Linked DNA regions of Homo sapiens: region 2 is linked to region 1. The links come from fine-mapping of genetic effects on gene expression. A gene starts in region 1. The other region holds a variant in brackets. All regions are shown on one strand. Distances are between the middles of the regions. Region 1 holds the start of DCN (decorin). Region 2 has its middle 35 kb from the start of DCN.

Region 1 (8,354 bases):
CTCTATTTTCGCCATGCTCATCTATCTTCCTTCCCCTTACTAAGATATTAATATACTGAGATTAAAACTACAACCTTCTAACTAGTTTCCTTGACTCTAGTTTCACCACTCTACATGTGCTTGCTAGATTTGATTTTCTAAAATAATAATTGGATCATGTTATTACCTCATTCAATTACCTTTGATAACATCTAGATTCAAGCATAATAATTGGCACATATTCATCAACAAATTAATATTTGATGAACAAATGAATGAATAAATGTATAAGTGCTCCATGGGAGAATTTCAAGTCCTTCCACAGTTAGACCTTACCCTCATTTATTTCATTATCTCCTTTTAGTTATTTCCATAAACATGGGACATTAATTTATTGTGTGACTTTGACATGTCAGATACCATGAGAGTTACTGAATGTTCAAAGAAATAAAGGAACTCAAGGCTTCTTTGAAAGAAAGTATCTGCTTAAGCCACATTGATTTATTTATTGTCTTCTGCTTTCCCATTGCCAAGGTTTGTTAGTGTCATTTTGCCAACATAAAAAGCCATTTCTTTCTTTTCTCTCCATGCATATTCTTTTCATCCCTCAGGATTTAGCTCAAATTGTACCTTGTTCATTATAAACACTTACCTAACCACTCAAATGTAAAGTGATCCATCCCTCAATCCCTTCTCTGACTTTCTAAGACAATTATTTTAATTACATCATACTTTACTTTGGCCGGGAATTATACATTATAAGTTTTCTGGTATGCTAAAGCTAAAATATTATTATACAAATCTATAGTTTATGCCATATCTCCTTATGCAACATATTTCCCTTGAGGCTATGCCCTTCACATCGTACTTTGTATTTCTTGGTATCTTCCATGGGGCCTGGTATAACACTTCCTCCCACAGTGGTTCCTCAGTCTATATTTTTTGATTAATTGATTGATGAGTTATTGTAAATTTCCTTGTATTTAACAGAGAGGTATGTACCTTGTGCAGACTAATGGATATTCAATAAGTGTTGATTTACTGTCCAAGTACAAACTAATCAATATTATGGAAATAATAATTAATCTTTTAATTAATTACAACTGACAAAAGAGATGCCCCAGAGCATTCAAGAAAAGTCAGGAAATTAAGGAACTGAATATCTCCTTGATACTTTTTAATCTATTTTAATTCATTACTTATCCTTTCCCTGTCTCTATTCCCATTTCTACTTTACTGCTCAGAGTAGAAATTCTTAACCTGGAGTCTCTGTTTCCTTATAAAGTCCATGAATGGATTTCAGCTGGACTTGGAGCCCAATAAAATGTTATGCATAAAGAAAGCCAGGCTGTTATGTAACAACACAAAGTCAAGGCTTAAACGAAAGCTTATCTAGCTCCAAACTATATCATAGCTTAGCTGATTTCTTCTGTTGTTAGGCAGAAAATCCACTGGACTATAAAAGATGTGCAGTCTGGTTATTGTACTGGAGTGTCCAAGGTAAAGTTTGTAATAACAAAAAACACAAGAGAAGCAGCAGCGGAAGCAACAAGTGTTGCTTGAGATGTGTCAGGCACAGTTCTAAATGTTTTATGTATTAAACTTCTTTGAACCTCACTATAAACTCATGAAGGGGATACCACTGTGGCTACTCACATTGTATAGGTTAAAAACCTGGAGAACAAAGAGGTTAAGTTACTTGTACAAGGTACCAGGACACCAAACACAATGGTAAGGGATGGAGGAATAGAGGCATGGGAAGATAGCCAAGGTAAAAGTTGTCTACACCAAATTTTCTTTCAAGCTATTCTGTATTCAAAGTGCCCTCAGTTCCACGCTAGTCATCTTTCTTGGCTAGGGAAGAACTCTGTCTACAGTGGCAACTACAGAGCCAGACAATTCACACCAGACCCAGATCTGACTTTGCAGAGTCAGTCTACAGACAAACCAGTCACATCAGGATTGTGAAGATAATCACTTGCCTCTAGACCTCTTAGAAAGTAAAGGGGTGTCAGAAGGAGACCTTTCTAAGCTCTGGCATTCTTCATATCCTTAATGGGCAGGTACAATTAAATACTTTGTATGTGATGTCAATGAGAGAGAATGGCCCTGAAATGAACTTCGACAATGTGCAGAATACAGTTAACCCTGTTAGCTAGTGGGTTGTCAGTAGAAATCAAAGTTTAAGTAGTTTAACAGTAGATGTGGGATGTGCTCTGAATTGGAATATTTCACATATCTATATGTCAGCCAGGGATTCAGGGAATCCTACCCCAAACATTCCAAGCCAGAATGACTTTAAGCAATCTGTGCACAGTGCTGTTTCTAGTCTTAAAATGGTTCCATTTCATGTTGGATTGCAAGAGACCTGGTTTCTGGTCATAGTGTCATGACCTCTTGGTGACTTAACTGCGTATGACTTTGTTGGGACATAGTTTCTTCTACTGAAAAATGAGTATGACGATAGATGTAACTTGTGATTAAAGATGCAGCTTTTAAATATGATGATGTTTGGTAAAATGCTTGAGATTTTGGAGGTGAGTTTCTTTCCAAACAACAACAACAAAAAGAAAATTTTTATTTGTTCCTGAACAAATTAAATAAAGTTTTAAAAGCATTGCAACTTGGTCATGGTTTGTAAAATAGTCTGAAAAGATGTTATCTCAAAACTTTGATAATTACTTTTCTATATGTAAGAATTTGCTTCCTCTTTCTTAAGATACATTATAGTTTAGTATAGTTTAGTAATGAAAAGTGGATTAGGCATGAGAAGACCTGGATATTAGTTTCTGCTTTGTTTCTTGCCAGCTCTGTGAACTTGGGCAAGTCACTGGGCTTCAATTTTCTCATTTGTAAAACAGAAATAGTAAATATGACTTATCTTGTCTAACTCAAAGGATTGTTTTGAAATATGTCAAGACATAATAAAAGCTTGCATTTACAGAGATTTTCACTTATAAGGATTAAGTTCTGAGTTAAGTGTTTTATATATATTGCCTTATTTAATCTCCACTCCAACACTATGAGTTAGGTAAGAATTTGTATCCATTTTTCAGATATGGAAACTGAAATTCAGAGAGGTTAAGCAAGTTGCCTGAGTTCATATAGCTTACTATCGGGGGGAAGGAACAAGATCTAAATCTTAACCATAATGGTTCTGCTTTTATAAAAGTAAAATTATCTACATAAAAAGGCATTATGTCTTTTTTTCTCCTCCTCCTCATTTTTCTTCTTCTACTTTTTCTTTAATACTTCCTTTTCTCTCTCTCTGTCTTGTAATGATGGCCATAATTTGTCATATACACTTTAGTAGGGTTAAGTTTTGATAAACAGTAAGCCAGGATTGGGGCAAAACACCAGTCCGGGTACGGTCCATAGCCAATCATTTGATTGTCTTTACTAATTTAGCAAATGTATCTTGGTAACTTAGTATATACCATGGCTATTCTGGGTGCAGGGATTCTACAAACATGAACACAATGTCATTCCTCCCTTGGAGTAAGACACGTACATAAATAATTATAATATGAGGCAGGAGTGATTATATGTCATCAAAAAGAGATAAATGCCATATAAGGAGAGTTCAGAAAGGAAATTAATAAATTCCAAGTAAAGGGGATCATGGACTTTTGCACCAATGTCCAGGGACAATAGTGCTTGCCTTTGTCTAAACTATCAGAATAACTAGATATGTGGTTATTAAATGTTAAGGAGATGCAGAGTAGGGTAAATTGTTTATCTGAGAGGCTGGGCTTAGGAAATAAGGCAAACTATAACGTGGTAACACGCCTCCCCCTCCTTAGATACCACTTGAGAATTTAATTTCTCTAAGTTTTTTTGAGGAAAAAGAATATTTACTGTGGAAGAATATACTTTGATGGCTGGAGGAGGGAAGGAAGGAGGCTGGAGGATGGGAGGGGGATCATCTCATGTTTCAAACTGTTGATTTCCAGTTTCCACCTGGTAACAGCCTAGGGGCCAGAGCATAATGATACAAGTCAAAACACAGAGACCTACACAGAGACAACTAACAGCATCCAGCAAGGGAATTATAAAAGCTCAAAAAAGATTTCCAGTGGCTAAATAAATACCTTTCCTTGTAGTTGCACTTGTTTTTCTTTTCATTTACTGAAATTTGGAAAGACACATAGACTCTATTGCCTTTTCAAAGTTCTAGTTTACATAAAAGTATAATCTATGAAAATCAAATTTTTCATATATAGAGGATGAAACTATGTTGTGATCAACTACAGGTTATCTATGTATTTTATTTAAAAACTGGTGGACAGGGAGAAAGATTTTAAACTATGATTAATGAAAGTGATAGATGACATACTTTTCATATAAAACCATGACTTTCTTTCAGGACACTTTAGAAATATGTCCAAAATATACAGAAAAACTCCACAGCATAGTGCTTGAATTTACACAAACATTCCAAGGCAAGTAGGAATCCGAATGAGTAGTTTCACATAAGGCTACTCATTTATTTTTGCAGTCCACATTTAAAACAACTACAAGATTAATTTCATTCCATTTTTCTGGACTTACACATCCCAAAAGCAAGAAAAAAATGTCATTTTGGAAGTATAATAAATGCTACTTGTAAACAAGGCTAGAAAGGGTGGAGAATGAAATGAGATGGGGGGTGGGGAAACAAACCCTTTAGTTACAATATCTTAGGGAAATGAATCTACAATAAGACAAATTTCAAATCAAGTTGCTCCACTATACTGCATAAGCAGTTTAGAATCTTAAGCAGATGCAAAAAGAATAAAGCAAATGGGAGGAAAAAAAAGGCCGATAAAGTTTCTGGCTACAATACAAGAGACATATCATTACCATATGATCTAATGTGGGTGTCAGCCGGATTGTGTTCATTGAGGGAAACCTTATTTTTTAACTGTGCTATGGAGTAGAAGCAGGAGGTTTTCAACCTAGTCACAGAGCAGCACCTACCCCCTCCTCCTTTCCACACCTGCAAACTCTTTTACTTGGGCTGAATATTTAGTGTAATTACATCTCAGCTTTGAGGGCTCCTGTGGCAAATTCCCGGATTAAAAGGTATGGTTTTCAATAATTGTCCTGAACTCTGCTACAGACTAATAAAACTTCGGTCAAGTTGCGAGCAAAAGGGATTATTTGGTGAGAAAAAGAAAAGGAAAAAAAAAACTGTTAAACTTTTATAGTTTTTATGCAACATTTTAAACAAGTATTATTTGAAAACAGAAGTTAAATATTTGATAAAATGATTGAATGCATTGTTTTATTTCTTTCTCTTCTGTTTTTGCAAAGATGCTTCTTAAAAAACTGTAACCTAACACCATGACTCTCTATATTAATGTTTTTGTGTTTGTATTAATGAATGTTTAGCTCTTCAAGAGATGGTAACCGAAAAGTATTCTGAAGTAGCATATCTGTAATTGACCTATATATTTAAAAAATGTATTTTTCTCCTGAATTTTTGATTGCTTTAAGGACTTTTAAAAGCCCAGAAGAACTGAACTCTGGTGATTAGCTGAAAATACCTAATGTATATTTCTTCAACCCCAGAAATGAACAGAAATTATCACCAGAGAAGTGAAAATAAACATTGAAAATATTTATGTTATTAAATGCCTAAGATACTAAAAACGCTGTATAATTTCTTAAATGTAAAGTGTCCCAGTCAGTATCTTCACTGCAAGTGAAATTTTAAGATACATTCACTATAAAATGAGGATGTGGGTTAATTTTCTAATTTTAAAACAGGGTAACACAGTGACCACTGATTAAGTGGGCTCCCAGTGATGTAAATACCTGTGGCTTTTTTTTTTCCTGTTGCTGTTTCTAACCAGAAAAGAGCCAAATGCCTCCTATAGTAACCCTTGTTTGTGGATAAATGCCGCCTTTATTCTTTATTTTAAAATTACATATATTATAATTGAAGTTTTTAATCATCTAGTGCTGTAGGATTTTAATTTTGTTTTGCATTTATAGCTTCACTTATCTCTTGAGGGTTAAATTTTGACTTTGAAAGTGACACCAGAGGCATAGATAACATAATGCAAATGTTGATCTGGATGACATACTTCATTTAATGGGCTTAACTAGTTTTAGGAACCAGAAATTATTATTTTTGGTAAAACATTTGTAAACTATGGCAACTAGCTTCAGTGGAGTAGTGATATTACATTAGTAATTAGCATCTTGGACATTGTCATGCATTTTTAGACTACTTAAAACAGTTTCAGTATAATTTAAACAGCATATCATCTCAATAACAATCTCTTTGGTTACTACTTGGACAGCTGCTCTTTGCTCTTTATATTTCTGATTAATTAAGGAAAGAAGGAAATGACGAAAGGAATTATCAGTATTGACAGCCCACATTAAATGTTTTAAGATGCTGGGTCTTGAAGTACCATGACACTAATTTAAAACAGATGATTTTATGGAAGATTTTGCACAAAGTTTCTGGACATGCAATTATTTTTTCACAGTACAGTCAGGGTTAAATGCACACACACACATACACTCTCTCTCTGTCACACACACATGAACACACACACATACATTCTCTCTCTCTCACACACACACACACACGAGCAAATGAAAATGAAATAAAGGTCGGTGATTGAAGTTATAAGCTGCCTGTCTATATTCAGCTTCAATCAAAAAGAATATTGTTTGGAGAATTTGTACCATTTTAACAGGAGTAAACAAACATAAATTATAATACTATTTCTCTCAGCTAATACTCAACATTTTCTTTTTGTGGGTTGTTAGTGAAACAACCAGGCATGTTCTGCTCTGGAGAAAAGATTTCAAAGTGACATCTGCATTAACTGTCGTTGCTATTTATTAAATCTGCAATGACTTTGCTTCATTTTTCTTTTAAACTTGTAAGACATTAAATATGCAAGGCTAGCAAGCTTGTGGTAAACCATAAACATTGCATTTTTAATGGGAAACAGATACAAAACCACTCCCTCAGATACAATCCAAAGGAACAGGCTGCCAAAACAAAAGTCTTCTCTTAAAGGGATACTCAGTAACTGAATGAGAGTGGGCTGCTAGAAGAAGCTTAATGTTGAACTTAAAGTGGCAGTGTGAATAATAATCTTTATGATATTTTGTTAAATGAAAAGCCACAAGCCTGTATTCAACATGTGCTGCCTTAGACACATATCAGTAGTAAATATAAACTAAGAACAAACATGTAAGAAACTGAAAAACATTTGTTTCTTCTCTAGAGAATCTAGGCAAAAATTCCCAGAAGATACCTTAAGGTTAGATCATACAAAGATCTTTCTTTTCTCTTCTCTTCTTTCTTTCTCTCTCTCTCTCTCTTTCTTTCACTTTCTTCCTTTCTTTCTTTTTCTCTTTCTTTCTTTCCTTTTCTTTCTTCCTTCTTTCTTTCTTTCTTCCTTCCTTCTTTCTTTCTTCTTTTTTTTAATATGCTACAATTGGATAATGACTCAAAACAGCTGTAAGATTCTACTTACGAACGTACAGCTTTAATATGGATTCGTCTAAGTGTACAATTCAAGGTAGAGATGATGGGACTAAATATCTGCTATGATGGGACTAAATATCTACTATGTTTTGGAGATATCAGAATGGTTTCAATGCAATTTAAAAAATATTTCATCTCCCAAATGACTTTGCTGCTATATAATCAAGTACTTTTGTTATTCAGATTTATTACGATTTTGTCACTCAGATTTATTTAGTGCACTTCAGTTGATTTAACAACATAGATTCGTGCTTGTGGAATGAATGGATAAATATGGAATACATTTATCAAAACAATACTTGTTTTTTTACAAAATGCCCTGTTAGCAAAATGAGATCATATATACATCACATAAAAATCAGAATTTTCCATATGTGTTTATTAGCTTATTAAACATAATGTTTGAGAAACTAGGAAATTGATTTATTTTTTAAAGCCGATCTTGCTTATACCAAGTTGAGGTTTTCAATCTGCTTTTTTTATATCAGAAATTCGATACTGAAAAAAAGCTAATTTTGTGTTTTAAAAAATCAGACTGATTGCTTGGAACAAATGGAATAAATCGTCTTGTCAATAAAGTGATGGTCAATTGAGTCATTTGTGTGCAAAATATTGTGCAAGGCCCGGGTACAGAACAAGGAATAATAAGACACGCCCTGAAGGAGTACATCGTCTAGTGAGGGACAGACCAAGCACGCAAAACAAATTGCAATATAATGTGATAAGTTCTTTAAAAGAGGTAAGAGCAACGTGCTTTGGGAGCAGAGAAGAGGGAGAAAGCAGCATCTTGCCTGGATGAGCCAGGGGACACAGAAGAGAAGCCCACTATCTCATTTAATCTTTACAACTCTCTTGCAAGGTCGGTATTCTACATGGC
Region 2 (8,354 bases), 34 kb before region 1:
CATTATAATGATGTCAACATTTAAAAAATGCTGATGCACAATAAGAGGTACAGGCTAGATTTAAATTGATTATATATTTTATATAAATATAAAATCAATGAAAAAACTTCCAATATTATACATGTGCTGTAAAAAGAAAACATTCTGAAATAGGCTGATGGCATTTCAAAAGCAGTCTAAAATTATTTTTAAAAATTGTTTTATCTTGGTGGTAAAACAAAATATTATGAAATTCATTTTAATATGATGAAGTTTCAATAAATCTAACAATTAAAATTGATTACACATGTAGAATCCATGCAAAAAAATAAGTCAGTGAAATAGAATCACCTTCATGTCATGGGTTGTCATTGTTTGCTTGTTATTAACCCTGTAATGCCACACACCTACTCTGCCTTGTCCATTGCTGTATTCCCAGCACCTAGCAGAGTATATAGTACACACACACAAATTTATGAATTAATGAATTTCAGATCAGTGTATGCTATGAAAAAAACATAAATACAACAAATTTGAATCATGTCTATCTAGTTATTTGGTTTAGACATATTGATATGATTTTTCACATATGTTCTAATACATTTTTGATGCTGATTATATTACACCTATCTCTATCTTTCCATTTAGATATGGATAAAGTCTTACATGCATTTAGCAATAAATTTCATAAGGTTAAGTTGATTGAAAATAATCGGAATTTGTAAAGAAGAACAAATATGTCTGTGGACAAAATCTGTAAGCAAAAAATATACAAAAAGATCCCAATGCACTGAGATAGGATGTGTTATGAGGTGAAACTGATCAAGGATAACTATGACACCTTTGCTCATGTATAGTCAACTGAATTCACTGTCACAAAATAAGGGGTCATATCTTAGCCCCTTTTTTGGTTATCAGAACATTCAATATCAGATGATTTCATGACCAAAAGGATATCATATCCATCTTCATTAAGGACAGTACCACAGGTAAACCTAGGGCGGCACAGTCCAACTCTGTACTGGTTGGTAAATTCTTGGACTATTTCTTTCAGTTCTGAGTACCTTCATTTAGAAGGATTTAGATGGATTAAAATATATTTACAAAAGAATAACACAACATCGCTTATGAGAAATGTTTAAAGAAAGAGAAATATTTAACCTAGAGATGTGGAATTTTGTTAAAAGGATATAAAAGTTATAAATAAAAAAAGTTATAAATAAAAAAAGTTATAAAAAACTTATGTGTCTGTGGATGTCATCAAAGGGAATTTCTGTCTTTTTAAATTTACAATATATTTTACTTTAATCCTTCTCTCTCCGAGCTACTATCATGACCTGTCTGAGTTTCAAGAGCAGGTAATAACTTGTCTTCTCACATCAGCTTTTGCACTCCACTCCCTAATTCTATTGTCAACTTAGCAGGTAGAGAAACTCTTCTAAAGGGTCATGTGATCATGTGAACAGAAATGACAACAGAGCTTACATTTATTACTGTCTTATTTGATCCTCACAGCATCCAAATGAAATAAACATCATTGGCCTTTCTTGAGATGAAGAAATAGATTGTTTGAAACTGCCCACTGGCCTGACTTGCTCAAAGACACATGACTAGAAAGTTATCAATCTGTAACTAGAAATCAGGTCTATCTTATTTCAGACTTCAGTTTTATGGGCCACCAAATTGTCAATGAGTCCTGAGACTAGCAGCAATGTGAGCTTGGGAATTGGCAGGAAATAGTCTGAAGTAGAGATCCTAAATTAGTCATCTATTGCTGTGTCACAAATTACCCAAGACTTAGTGGAAGGAAGTCATGCCATGCCAGTGTTGGTCTAAAGGTTAAGAAAGATGGGAAATTCTGCTGTGGTGCTCTGGGGAAAGCTCCACACCACATAAGGCTTTGAAGTATCCTGAAACCATTGTGTGCTGTGATAAAGATAATCTAGCCCCATAAAGCAACCATATGAGTGAAGCCATCTGGGAAGTGTATGTTCCATTGCTTCCCCTACCACAAAATGAGCCACCCTCGCTAGCATCATGGCCAGCAGAGACAAATTGCATAACTAAGTAGCATAACACTACAAACATGTATTATCTTTCATAGTTTCTGTAAAATACGTCTTCTTCACTAATGTATTTCATGTGCCTAGTGCATGACATAAAACAAGTTCTCAATTGTTACTAAAATAAATATTACATGAGTTAAAGAATAAATGTGTATACACATGATTATGTGAATATATAAAGTATCATGGAGAGATGAATAATACTTTTGTATGATCTCTTCTTAATATGATTACTTCTCTACATATTTTCTATTCCAAATATGTATTGAAATGTTAGGTAAAGGAATGAGTAAATTATATGAGGAATAAGAAAAATTTTGGTAATTAAAGAGGAAAAGAATTAAATAGATTAGTGACATAAGACAATTAAAAGTTTGCCATGTTGAGGAGCAAAGCTTGGATGAATTCAGGTGAGAGATTTCTGAGAACTATGGGATGTCACAGGGAAGACAGGAGGCTGTCCAAGAGCCAGACCCAGAAAAATGGTGGCCTAGTCTAAGGAAAAACAAGAATCCTATAAAACAAAACAAAACACTTAATGTCTTCAGGGAATGAATCTCTGTAGAACAATACTATGCAGAACAAAATAACAAAACTTGATTTTGTGAATAATCATCAATCATGAAAAAGTTGACAAGTTTTTGAATAAGAAGCTATCATTAGTATCATTTAATAAATTTAGAAAGAAAGGAATACTATGCAGCCATAAAAAACGATGAGTTCATGTCCTTTGTAGGGACATGGATAAAGCTGGAAACCATCATTCTCAGCAAACTATTGCAAGGACAAAAAACCAAACACCGCGTGTTCTCACTCATAGGTGGGAATTGAACAATGAGAACACATGGACACAGGAAGGGGAACATCACACACCAGGGCCTGTTTTGGGGTGGGGGAAGGGGGAAGGGATAGCATTAGGAGATATACCTAATGCTAAATGACGAGTTAATGGGTGCAGCACACCAACATGGCACATGTATACATATGTAACAAACCTGCACGTTGTGCACATGTACCCTAAAACTTAAAGTATAATAATAATAAAATAAAATTTAAAGAAAGAAAGAAAGGCTTCCATCAGAAAAAAACCAGGAAGCAGAAATTGTATCTCTTATTTGGGCAACAGTTTTTATAAATTAGTATTCCATAAAAGTAAGGATTATTTATTGGCTAGTGCTATTTAAAAAAATAAATGTAGGATCATAAGTTTTTAGAGATACCTGTAATACAGAAAAAGACATGTGCCATTCTAGAGTCAAACATACAATCCCCAAGCCCTACCAGGATCTTTCTAGAAAAACTCAAGTTTCAAACATAACAGATCATACAATAAAGTAATTAAACATATATTTGAGCTTCTACCCAAAATTGTTTCTAAGTCTGGAACTTGGACAAATGTTCAGAAATCCAAAATTTGTTATGAATTAACCTATTATATCATTGTTTAATTCCATTTGACAGTTGAATTTCACTAAAATGCAGGGAAACAATCCGAGTATTAAATATGTTCAAAATACATTTTATTTGGCAGCAATGTTTTCTAACATAGAAGAGACCTAGAAAGCTAATAGCATGTGGAAAGATAAAGGAGATTAAATTTGCCTTTTTGGGTACTGTTATAGGATAAGCCTGAACTCCTGATTTGAATAAATGGTTAAAAGAGTGAAATAACTTACCCAATTTCAAATATCAAAGTTACTATTATATGGGCCAAGTCCTGTTCTATGCATTCAGAACAAATAAGTGAACAAATAATAACTACTACCTGATTGGGGCTTCCTTTTTGATAGGGAAGTTACAAAATGAAATGAAAATAAAATGAAAATAAATGTGAATTCTATAGTATGTGAGAAGGTAATAAATGCTATGGAAATAAAGGTAGAATACAGTGAAGGGTATTAAGTATCAAGGTGGAAGGGAGGGATAGGATGCAGTGTTAAACTGGGTGGTCATGTTAGACCTTCTGTAAAGGTAACTGAAGAAACAACTGCACAATGTAAGGGAAAAGTATTTCAGTCAAAGAGAAGGCAGGAGCGAATAAGTGTGCGAGTAATACAAAATGAAGAAGAAGAAGAGGAAGAGGAAGAAGAAGAAGACAAAGAAGAAGTAGTAGTTACAGTGGTGGTGACGATGTTGGAGAATGTTCTTGATGGCCTCATGTGCCTCTTAAGAATTTTGAGATGTTTATTTATTTATTTATTTTTTAATGAAAATGAGGAGCCATTGCCAGTATTTGTGCAGAAGAGTGCTATGTTGAACATTAGGTTTTAACATTCAGATTGCTGTACTAAGAACAGTCTAGCATGGGTTAACTCTGCTCTCTGCCATCACACAGGTCTAAAGTCCTTGCCTCAGTGCTTCTAATT[T/C]CTTCATTAGTCATCTTATGATGCAGCTGCTCACATGATTTGAACAAGTTCTTTGGAACACATTGTCTTTATTTGATCCCTGTTTTTTAGTGCCATGTAAATTACTCATAAACACAGTGCTTTGGCCATCCCAATAATAAGACAGAACAAATGTAATTTCTTTTTACCCCAACTTCCGCATTCGTGGTCTCTCCATTAGTAAATCCCAAACATTGGAAATATCAATTCATTTACCAAATGTTTATTGCATGTCTGTTATGTGCCAGGCACCGTTGTATGACTTAGAGATTCAGCAGTGAACAAAATAAAGCAGGACACTGCTTTCATAAAGCTCATATTAAAATTCAAATAGTATATACAACATAAACTGTACATATTGAAGGCTAACCCTCATGCACACAATTTAAATTTCATTTCAAAAAGATAAAAATGGGACAAATCATGCTTTAGTATATCACCCTCTTTCATAGACTCTATAACATCCAGGTCAAAGATATTTTCAGATCCTATTTTGTGCCTTTGAAAAGAGAGGATATTGTTCTTATATTTAGCACACTCGTCCCTCCTTTTTCTCGGTAATAGTAATTCTACTTTTATTCTAGTATTTTCTTTTCTCTATGGAGCTCCTATAAATGTGGGGAAGATAATTTCTGTTTTAGGTATGTTCTAACTGAACTAATGTAATAGGCACAACCCATGTTCCTGGCTTCAGGGATGAGAACATGACCCAAATCAGGCCAACGTGATGGGAGGAGATGTTTTCTGAGGGTTTTTGAGAAAGAACTTTCTTATTCTCCCAAGAGAGCTCCTCAGAAAAAAAAGAAAATTCTCCTTCTGCTTACTATGAATGCAAAGTCTTTTAACCACTGGCAGATGACAGCGGCCATCTTGTAACCCCAAGAGAAAGAAGCCTTAGATTGAAAGAGCACTGAGAAAGGTGCCAAGGAGACTTGGAAAGGAATTGAGTCTTTTGTGATGTCATCACAACATTGGGTTACATATTACCTAAAATCTGACGTGCCTCTGGTCTTCAGTTACTTGCTCCATTAAGTTCTGCTATTTAAGCCTGAGAATGAGTCAAGCATTCTGTTATTTTTACTGAAGATTCCTAAGGGATACACTGACTATATGCCTGGTGCTAGCCATAACAAAGGAGTAACACAGAGTCTGTAACATCAAGGAATTTACATGTTAGTGGCAGAGACAAAATACAATTAAAAATAAAATAATAAAAGGGAAATGAGTTTTAGGATATTGGAAAGAGAAGGATCCACCTTGCAAGAACTCAGCCTGTTAATGAAGGGTTTCTAAGGAAAATGTCTTAGAAGGAAATAATACTTGAGGTGTCTTTTTTAAATAACTGAGGCAAAGAAAGAGAAAAGCAGTCAGTCAAAAGAAACAGGTCTGCTATTAATAATTATAATACTCAATATGTATTGTGTTTACGTCTTTGCTGTGCTGAAGTATTTGCAGATACTGTGTCATTTAATCTCTACAACAATTTTATGAACTACTTCTTATAAATGGGGAAATTGAGGCTGATAAAAGTGAAATAACTTACCCAATTTCAAATATCAAAGTTACGAATCAGGGAACTCAAAACAAGCTCTTTGACTGCAGGACCCAGATTCAAATCCACTGTATACTTCTGGCCTCTAGAACTTAGAGACTAAAGCAAATATACTGTAAGTGGAGATTATTAAGTAGTTCTTTTTATCTGGAGCATTTAGTATGAGGATGGGTGGAAATAAATGAAGATACAGAGGAGATCATGGGCTATATTGTAAAAGGGTTTTATGCTAAAAAAAATTCAATTTCTTACTAAATGGAATCCTAAGTGCTATAATTCTTGAATCTCTCTAAGACATATCTGATCATGAGAAAATATTCATACCAAGTATAGGCCAAGTACAGAGATTAAATAATAACAACATGATTTATGATTATCTCAAAAGTATAGAAATTCAGAGACTCACCAATCATATACATAATTTATAGTAATATAAATATACATGAAATGGATTAAGCATTATCAAATTTAGCTAAGTATTCTTAAAGGATCTTATGCAAAAACATACACATGTAAATGGAATGTCTTAGATATTTATTTTAATGGATGGTGAAGACTGCAAAACAATACAAGGAGACGTATATCAAATGCCTTTTACTTGTATAAACAAGAATTTCTGTAACATGAAGTAAGTATAATTTAATTGATGTTTATTAAACTATCATACTCAGAAGCTATTTTGAATGACTTTATTTAGATTGTATTTCTTAAAATGAAGATGTGTTTACAGAAATTTGCATTCATTGCTGGTGGAAATACAGAAGGATATGTCAACTTCCCAAGACAGTTTGACAGTCTCTTACAAAATGAAGCACAAGCTTCACATGCAATCCAGCAATCATTCTTCTATGTACTTACCCAAATGAGTTAAATTTTTGTCTACACAAAAACCTGCCTATAATTTGTAAATCAGTTTTATTCATAATTGCTAAATATTGGAAGCAACCAAATGTCCTTCAGTAGGATAATGGTTACACAAAATATCATATATCCATACAACTGAATATCATTCAACAATAAAAAGAAATGAGCTATCAGCCACAAAAAGAAATGGAAGAGCCTTAAATGTATATTGCTAAGAGAAAGAAACCAGTCTGTAAAGGCTATATTCCAAATGATTCCAACCATATGGCACTCTGTGATAGACAAAAAACTACAGAGATGGTAAAAAGATCAGTGGTGTCCAAAGATTCAGGGAGAGGGAAACAGGAATGAGTAAGTGGAGATAGTTTTACCTATGCACGGGGCATTTTTAAGATGTTCAAACTATTATGTATGATACTGTAATGGTGGATGCATGGTGTTATGCATTCATCAAGCCCCTTGTTAATAACAGGAGAAACTATGTGGGAAGAGAATATATAGTAATATGTACAGAATATATTTTCTGTACTCTATACACAATTTTTCTGTGATCTATGACTTCGCTAAAAAAAAGATGTCCAAATATTGTCTCCCATTCTGTAGGTTGTCTGTTAACTCTGACAAAGAACTAATATTCAGAAACTACAAGGTATGCAAACAAATCAACAATAAAAAAACATTAAAAACTGGGCACAGGACATGAACAGGCATTTCTCAAAAGAACAAATACAAGCAGCCAGCAAACACACGAAAAATGCTCAACACCAATAATCATCAGATACATGCAAATTAAAACCACACTGAGATATGATCTTATGCCAGTCAGAATGACTATTATTAAAAAGGCAAATAACAAAAGATGTTGGCGTGGATGTGGAGAAAAGAGAACGCTTATAAACTGTTGGTAGGCATGTAAATTAGTTCAACCACTATGAAAAACAGTAAGGAGATATCTCAAATAACTAAAAATAGAACTACTATTTAACCCAACAATTCACTACTTGATATTTACCCAAAGGAAAAGAAATCATTATACTAAAAAGGTACTTGCACTCGTATGTTTATAAAAAGCACTATTCACAGTAGTAAAGTCATGGAACCACCCTAAGTGTCCACCAGTGGCTGCTTAAAGAAAATGTGGTAATATTTATGCTGTGGAATACTATGCAGCCATAAAAAAGAATGAAATCATGTCCTTTGTAGGATGTAACTGCAGACCATTATCCTAAGTAAACTAACTCAGAAGAAGAAGATAAAATACTGCATGGTCTTACCTATAAGTGAGATCTAAACAATGAGTATGCATGGACATAAAGGTTGAGATAATAGAACCTGGGGACTCCAAAATGGAGAAGGGTTGGAGGAGGGTTGATTGTTGAAAAATTGTCTATTGGGTACAGTGTTCAATATTTGGGTGGTGGATACACTAGAAGCCCAATTCCCACCATTATGCATGTAATATCCATGTAACAAACAAGTACATGTACCTCCTGAATCTAAAGTAAATTT

What was found.
Region 2: its variant is fine-mapped to the expression of DCN in fibroblasts (GTEx, PIP above 0.99).

Annotation. Positions count from the first base shown.
Region 1 is chr12:91,179,344-91,187,697 of GRCh38, reverse strand. It overlaps DCN (decorin), which reads left to right and starts at 4,881. Exons shown (of 8, transcript NM_001920.5): 1 at 4,881-5,043.
Region 2 is chr12:91,213,161-91,221,514 of GRCh38, reverse strand. No RefSeq gene overlaps it. Among named protein-coding and RNA genes, the nearest start is that of DCN, 35 kb to the right of the region's middle. The variant T/C (reference allele first, on the strand shown) is at 4,412.